Linked DNA regions of Homo sapiens: region 2 is linked to region 1. The links come from fine-mapping of genetic effects on gene expression. A gene starts in region 1. The other region holds a variant in brackets. All regions are shown on one strand. Distances are between the middles of the regions. Region 1 holds the start of DCTN6 (dynactin subunit 6). Region 2 has its middle 12 kb from the start of RBPMS.

Evidence for each region.
Region 2: its variant is fine-mapped to the expression of DCTN6 in prefrontal cortex (ROSMAP, PIP 0.95).

The regions. Positions count from the first base shown.
Region 1 is chr8:30,154,678-30,157,591 of GRCh38, reverse strand. DCTN6 (dynactin subunit 6) reads right to left here and starts at 1,223. Exons shown (of 7, transcript NM_006571.4): 1 at 1,186-1,223. The coding sequence starts at 1,208. It overlaps DCTN6-DT (DCTN6 divergent transcript), which reads left to right and starts at 932. Exons shown (of 1, transcript NR_186490.1): 1 at 932-1,763. It overlaps LOC124901927 (a long non-coding RNA gene), which reads left to right. Exons shown (of 2, transcript XR_007060880.1): 2 at 1-420. RefSeq lists a silencer at 853-962 and enhancers at 1,023-1,172, 1,116-2,098, 1,923-2,132.
Region 2 is chr8:30,370,705-30,373,618 of GRCh38, reverse strand. No RefSeq gene overlaps it. Among named protein-coding and RNA genes, the nearest start is that of RBPMS, 12 kb to the left of the region's middle. The variant AG/G (reference allele first, on the strand shown) is at 1,235.

The DNA.
Region 1 (2,914 bases):
TAAGCTTATACACTATTGGTGGGAATATAAATTAGTTCATCTATTGAAAATAGTATGGTGATTTCTCAAAGGACTAAACACAAGTACCATTGGACCCAGCAATCCATATAGAGCTACCAATCCAAACGGAACTACCATTCGACCCAGGATCTACTCAAAGGAAACCATTGTATTAAAAAGACAACTGCACTCCTATGACTATCACTGTACTATTCACAATAGCAAAGTATGGAATCAACCTAAGTGTTCATCAACGGATGACTGGATAAAGGAAATGTGGTGTATCTATACGATGGAATACTACAGAGCCATCAAAAAGAAAGGAAACATGTCTTTTGCAACAACATGGATGGAACTGGAGGCCATTACCTTACGCGATAACTCAGAAATAAAATCAAATGCACATGTTCTCACTTTTAAGTGGGAGCTAAAATGAGTACACATAAACATAAAGAGGGAAATAACAGACACTGGGGACTCTAAAAGCAGCGAGGGTAGGAGGGGTTTGAGGGCTGAAAAATTACCCATCTGATACAATGTTCACTATTTGGGTGGTAAGTACACTAGAAGCCAACTTCACCATTACGCAATTTATCTATGCAACAAATCTGCGCAAGTACTCCTTGCATCTATATAATGTGTGTGTGTGTGTGTCACAGTTCAAGTCCAGGCGCGGCCCCCCTTTTGACAGCGACCGTAAATCCCTTTACACACCCCACCCTCCAGAGACAGGAAGGGCCTGGGGTGCGGCCAGCACTGGCGTGGGGGTCTCGCAACATGCAGCAGAGAATCCAGCGCCAAGCCGTGGGGTACAGCGGCGCCAAGCACCGCCGATTATGCGGGAGAAGGGAGCCGGCCTTCCCCAGGAAAAAGCTGACGTCACCCTCCCCTCACAGCCCCCCCCGCCCTCCCGGCCGGGAGACCCCCTCTGCGCAGGCGCATGTGGGGAGGGACGGCCAGACAGGAACAAAAACCTTCCAGGCAGCGACTCCGCGTCCCTTCTCAACCCTCCCCGCCCCCACTCCGTCGCCCCCTCCCTCAGTGGACGCCAGGTCTGGGCTTCAGGTACCTTCGGCCCGAATGCCCAGGATGAGACACCTTCTGAGTCGCCACCATTGGCGACCAGGAACAGGTTCCACCCCTACGGAAAGCTGAGAAAAGGCTTTTCTCAAGCAGCAAACCCACCTCTTTTGAGTCTTCTCCGCCATGGTACGGCCCCAATTGGAACGTAGATCGACACCACCGCCTGGGTAGAGCGATAATTCCACATGCGATTGGAGAGCCTGGCAGGGTTGGGGGAGGGGCGGAGCCGGGGTGGGGCGGGGACCCGGAAGCTTGCGACTCTTGTTTGCGTCGCGTCTGGGCGCACAGGACTGTACTTTTGGTAGCGGTGCGGGGCCGCCCGCGGACTTTAGCCCTGCATAGAGATGGGTAGACCCTAATTTGGAACAGCCATTGACTGGGCACAGGCCAGCACTTTGGGAGGCCGAGAGGCCGAGGCAGGAGGATCGCTTGAGGCCAGGAGTGCCAGACTGCGAGACTAGCCTGGGTAACATAGTGAGACCCTCTCTTCAAAAAAAAAAAAAAAAAAAAAAAAAAAAAGCCTGTCACGGTGGCCTGCGCCTGTACCCCAGCTACTCGAGAGGATCGCCTGAGCCCAGTGAAGCTGCAGCGAGCTGTGAGGATGCCACCGCACTCCGGCCTGGGCTAAAAAGCTAGATCGTGTCTCTGATAAAAGAATAAAAGCTGTTTATTGCAATCCAGTCCGCGTCATTATGCCCTCATTTTACCCACTCGCGTAGGCGTAATTACACCCTAAAGGTATTTCTCTGACCTCGCCGATGTCCTTTTCAGCCTGTCTTTCTCTACTCATTAGGGCTCCTTCTGGCCCTTTTCTCGCTCTATATGAGTGCATCCTTCCTATAGGTTAAGTGCCCTCTACCTGTTTGCTCTCTAATGAATGTCTCTGGTTCTGCCCTCTGTGCCGATCTTCACACCTGACATTCGGTTGACTAATTGACATCTCCGCTCAGAGTCGTATCGAACCTAAAACTTACAGAACATGACTTTCGATTAACACTGCCGTCCTCCCTGCAACCTGCTGCTTTTTTGATCCACACCATTTGCCTAGCTGCTCAAGCCAGACACTCAAGAGTCACCCTGGCACTCCTCACCCCTACATCTGTAATAGATCTGCAAGTTCTGCTTGTCCTACCTCGGGTCTCATGCTTACACTTTTGTCTACCGGACCATCTCTCTAATCTCAGCCGATGTGTCTCTCCCAGTTGTTCACTCATTCTGTACTTGGCCTCTGAAATCACACCTCCTCATCTCCCACCCCCAACCCTGATCCAAGTAGTTCTCTTGTAGTCAAAATCATCCTTTAAAAGACAAATTGAGGCCAGGCGCGTGGCTCAAACCGGTAATCCCAGCACTTTGGGGGGCCGAGATGGGAGGATCGCTTGAGGCCAGGAGTTGGAGACCAGCCTGGTCAACACAGCATGATCCCGTCTCTATATATTTTTTCTATAATGTATTTTTTTAATGGAAAAAAATTAAAAATAAGAGCCAAATTCAGTTATTTCCCCTTCCTCTTAAAATCTAAAATCCAAACTGCTTTCCATAACCTATCTCTGAGCTACATCCAGCCCCTGCCTACTTCTCTCTTTCTCTTTCTATGTGTTCGATCACACCCTCATTCTCCAAAAAAGCAAAGCTGACTCTCCACCCCCAACCGCTTCCACTTGCCCCCACCCTAACACCTTCTGACCCTTTATGTCTCGGATGTCACATACTCAGTTTCCAACCAGAGAAACAGAACTAGTAGTAGATGGATATCAAAAGGCTTATTGTAAGGAATTGGCTTACATGATTGTGGAGCCCCAGCTAAGCAAGTCCAAAATCTGTACACTAA
Region 2 (2,914 bases), 220 kb before region 1:
ACAAAGCCCAAAGGGGCATACTGCTTGCTGAGCTGTACCCCAGTGGGTCAGCTGGGCACAGCATCGAACCAAAGACAATTACTCTTTTTTTTTTAGGAGACAAGGTCTTACTCTGTTGCCCAGGCTGGAGTGCAGTGGCATGATCATAGTCCACTGTAGCATCGAACTCTTGGCCCCAAGTGACTCCTCTGCCTCAGCCCCCCAAGTAGCAGTGACTCCAGGTATGCACGTCCACACATGGCTAATTTTAAAATTATTTTTAGAGATGGGGGTCTCACTATGTTGCCCTGGCTGGGCTCAGACTCCTGGCCTCAAGGGATCTTCCTGCCTCAGCTTCCCAAAGTATCAGGATTACAGGCATGAGGCACCACACCAGGCCAAGTATTATTTTTGAGCCTTAAAATCTCATGGTATTTGCTCTGTTAGGTTTTGGACTTACTTGGGACCCATCGCCCCTTTCTTTCTTCCAGTTTCTTCCTTTTGGAATGGGAATGTATATCCTATGCCTGTCCCACCATTGTATTTTGGAAACACATAACTTATCTGGTTTCACAGATTCACAGCTGGAGAGGAATTTTGCCTCAAGATGAATTGTACCTCGAGTCTCTACCATATATACTCTAGATGATATCAGATGAGACTTCAGAGTTGATGCTAAAATGAATTAAGACTTTGGGGGCAGTTGAGATGGAAAGAATGTATTTTGCATGTGAGAAAAACATGAATTTGGAGGGACAATGGCACTGAACAGGAGGCCGTGCTATAACCTCTACATGGACTGTCACATTTTATTGTTTAAAGATGCCAGGTTAAACATAAGCATTTCCGTCCCTCTCCCTAAACCTCTAATAACAATTCAGAAAAGATGTGTTGTCATCAACATTATTTTAAAGCATAAACTAACAAGGATAAAGAGAATGAAAGAAAGCTAGGCCTGTGGCTTATACCTCTAATCCTAGCACTTTGGGAGGCCAAAGCACAAAGATCACTTGAGGCCAGGAGTTTGAGACCAGTCTGGGCAATACAGCAAGATACTCATCTCTACAAAAAGAAAAAAAATTAGCTGGGTATGGTGACACATGCCTGTAGTCCCAGCTGTTTCAGAAGCTGCAGCAAGAGGATTACTTGAGCCTAGGAGTTTGAGGCTGCTGTGAGCTATGATCATCGCACCACTGTACTCCAGCCTGAGTGACACAGCGAGACTGCATCTCTTAAAAAAAGAAAGAAAAAAAAA[AG/G]AGAGAGAATGAAAGAAAACAATAGTAGTAAAATTTGGGAAACTGTGAAGCAGATTAATATTAAGAAAACTAAATCCAGCCGGGCGCGGTGGCTCACGCCTGTAATCCCAGCACTTTGGGAGGCTGAGATGGGCAGATCACGAGGTCAGGAGATCAAGACCATCCGGACTAACATGGTGAAACCCCATCTCTACTAAAAATACAAAAAATTAGCTGGGCGTAGTGGCGGGCGCCTGTAGTCCCAGCTACTTGGGAGGCTGAGGCAGGAGAATGGTGTGAACACAGGAGGCGGAGCTTGCACTGAGCCAAGATCGCACCACTGCACTCCAGCCTGGGTGACAGGGCAAGACTCCGTCTCAAAAAAAAAAAAACAAAGGAAAGAAAACTAAATCCTAAGCTTGGTGGTGGCAAAAAATTGAGAAGCTACAGAATTCCCAAAAGACGCAAGCCTTGGCAGTAGCTGGCACCTCAGAAGTGAGAGTGAAAATGGGGCTGTAACCAAGAGGATTATCGAAAGGAAAGCAATACATTCCTAGATTCCTCTTTTTTTTTCACATTTTATTGTGAAATTTACTTGTTTTCATTTGTTTGTTTGTTCGTTTGAGACAGAGTCTCACTCTGTCACCCAGGCTGGAGTGCAGTGGCACGATCTCAGCTCTCTGCAACCTCCGCCTCCTGGGCTCAAGTAATTCTCATGCCTAAGCCTCCAGAGTAGCTGGGATTACAGGCGTGTGCCAATGCGCCGGGCTAACTTTTGTATTTTTTGTAGTTTTGTATTTTTTGTAGAGACAGGTTTCTCTATGTCGGTCAGGCTGGTCTCAAACTCCTGACCTCAAGTGATCCACCCACCTTGGCCTCATAAAGTCCTGGAATCACAGGCATGAGCTAGCGCACCCAGTCGAAATTAACATTTTAAATTTGTCTCTTCTCTTTTTGGGAATATCTAAATGGAAAAAGAAAAACAGATATATCTTCTTCTTCTTTTTTTTTTTTTTTTTTGAGACAAAGTCTCACTCTGTTGCCCAGGCTGGAGTGCAGTGGCATGATCTTGGCTCACTGCAACCTCTGCCTCCCAGGTTCAAGCGATTCACCTGCCTCAGCTACCCTAATAGCTGGGATTACAGGCATGTGCCACCACACCAGGCAAATTTTTGTATTTTTAGTAGGGATGGGGCTTTACCATGTTGGCCAGGCTGGTCTCGAACCCCTGACCTCAGGTGATCCGCCTGCCTTGGCCTCCCAAAGTGCTGGGATTACAGGCATGAGCCACCAGGTCTGGCCCCCCTATTGTCATTTTTATTAGAAGTTTATTTCTCTTCATATGAGTAAAGTTTTATTAAAGCAGCTTAACTATAAATATATAAAAATTTTAAAGACAAGAAACATGACTAATGAGGTAAACATCAATGGCTGAAAAGTTGGAAAATTAGGTGTGTGTGTGTGTGTGTGTGTGTGTGTAAATTTAGGCTTCCAGTAATCATAAGCATTACTGTAATTTTCACCCTAAGTGAACCACTTTAAAATGTGTGCCTTTCTTGAGTAACCATTGTAAATATTAATTGGACATTCACAGACTGTAAAGGTTTAAAACTAATGACTGGATGTTATGGCAAACAGTGTGGAGCTTCCTCAAAAAATTAACAATAGTACTGATCTAGCAGGCTTGCTACTGAGCATAT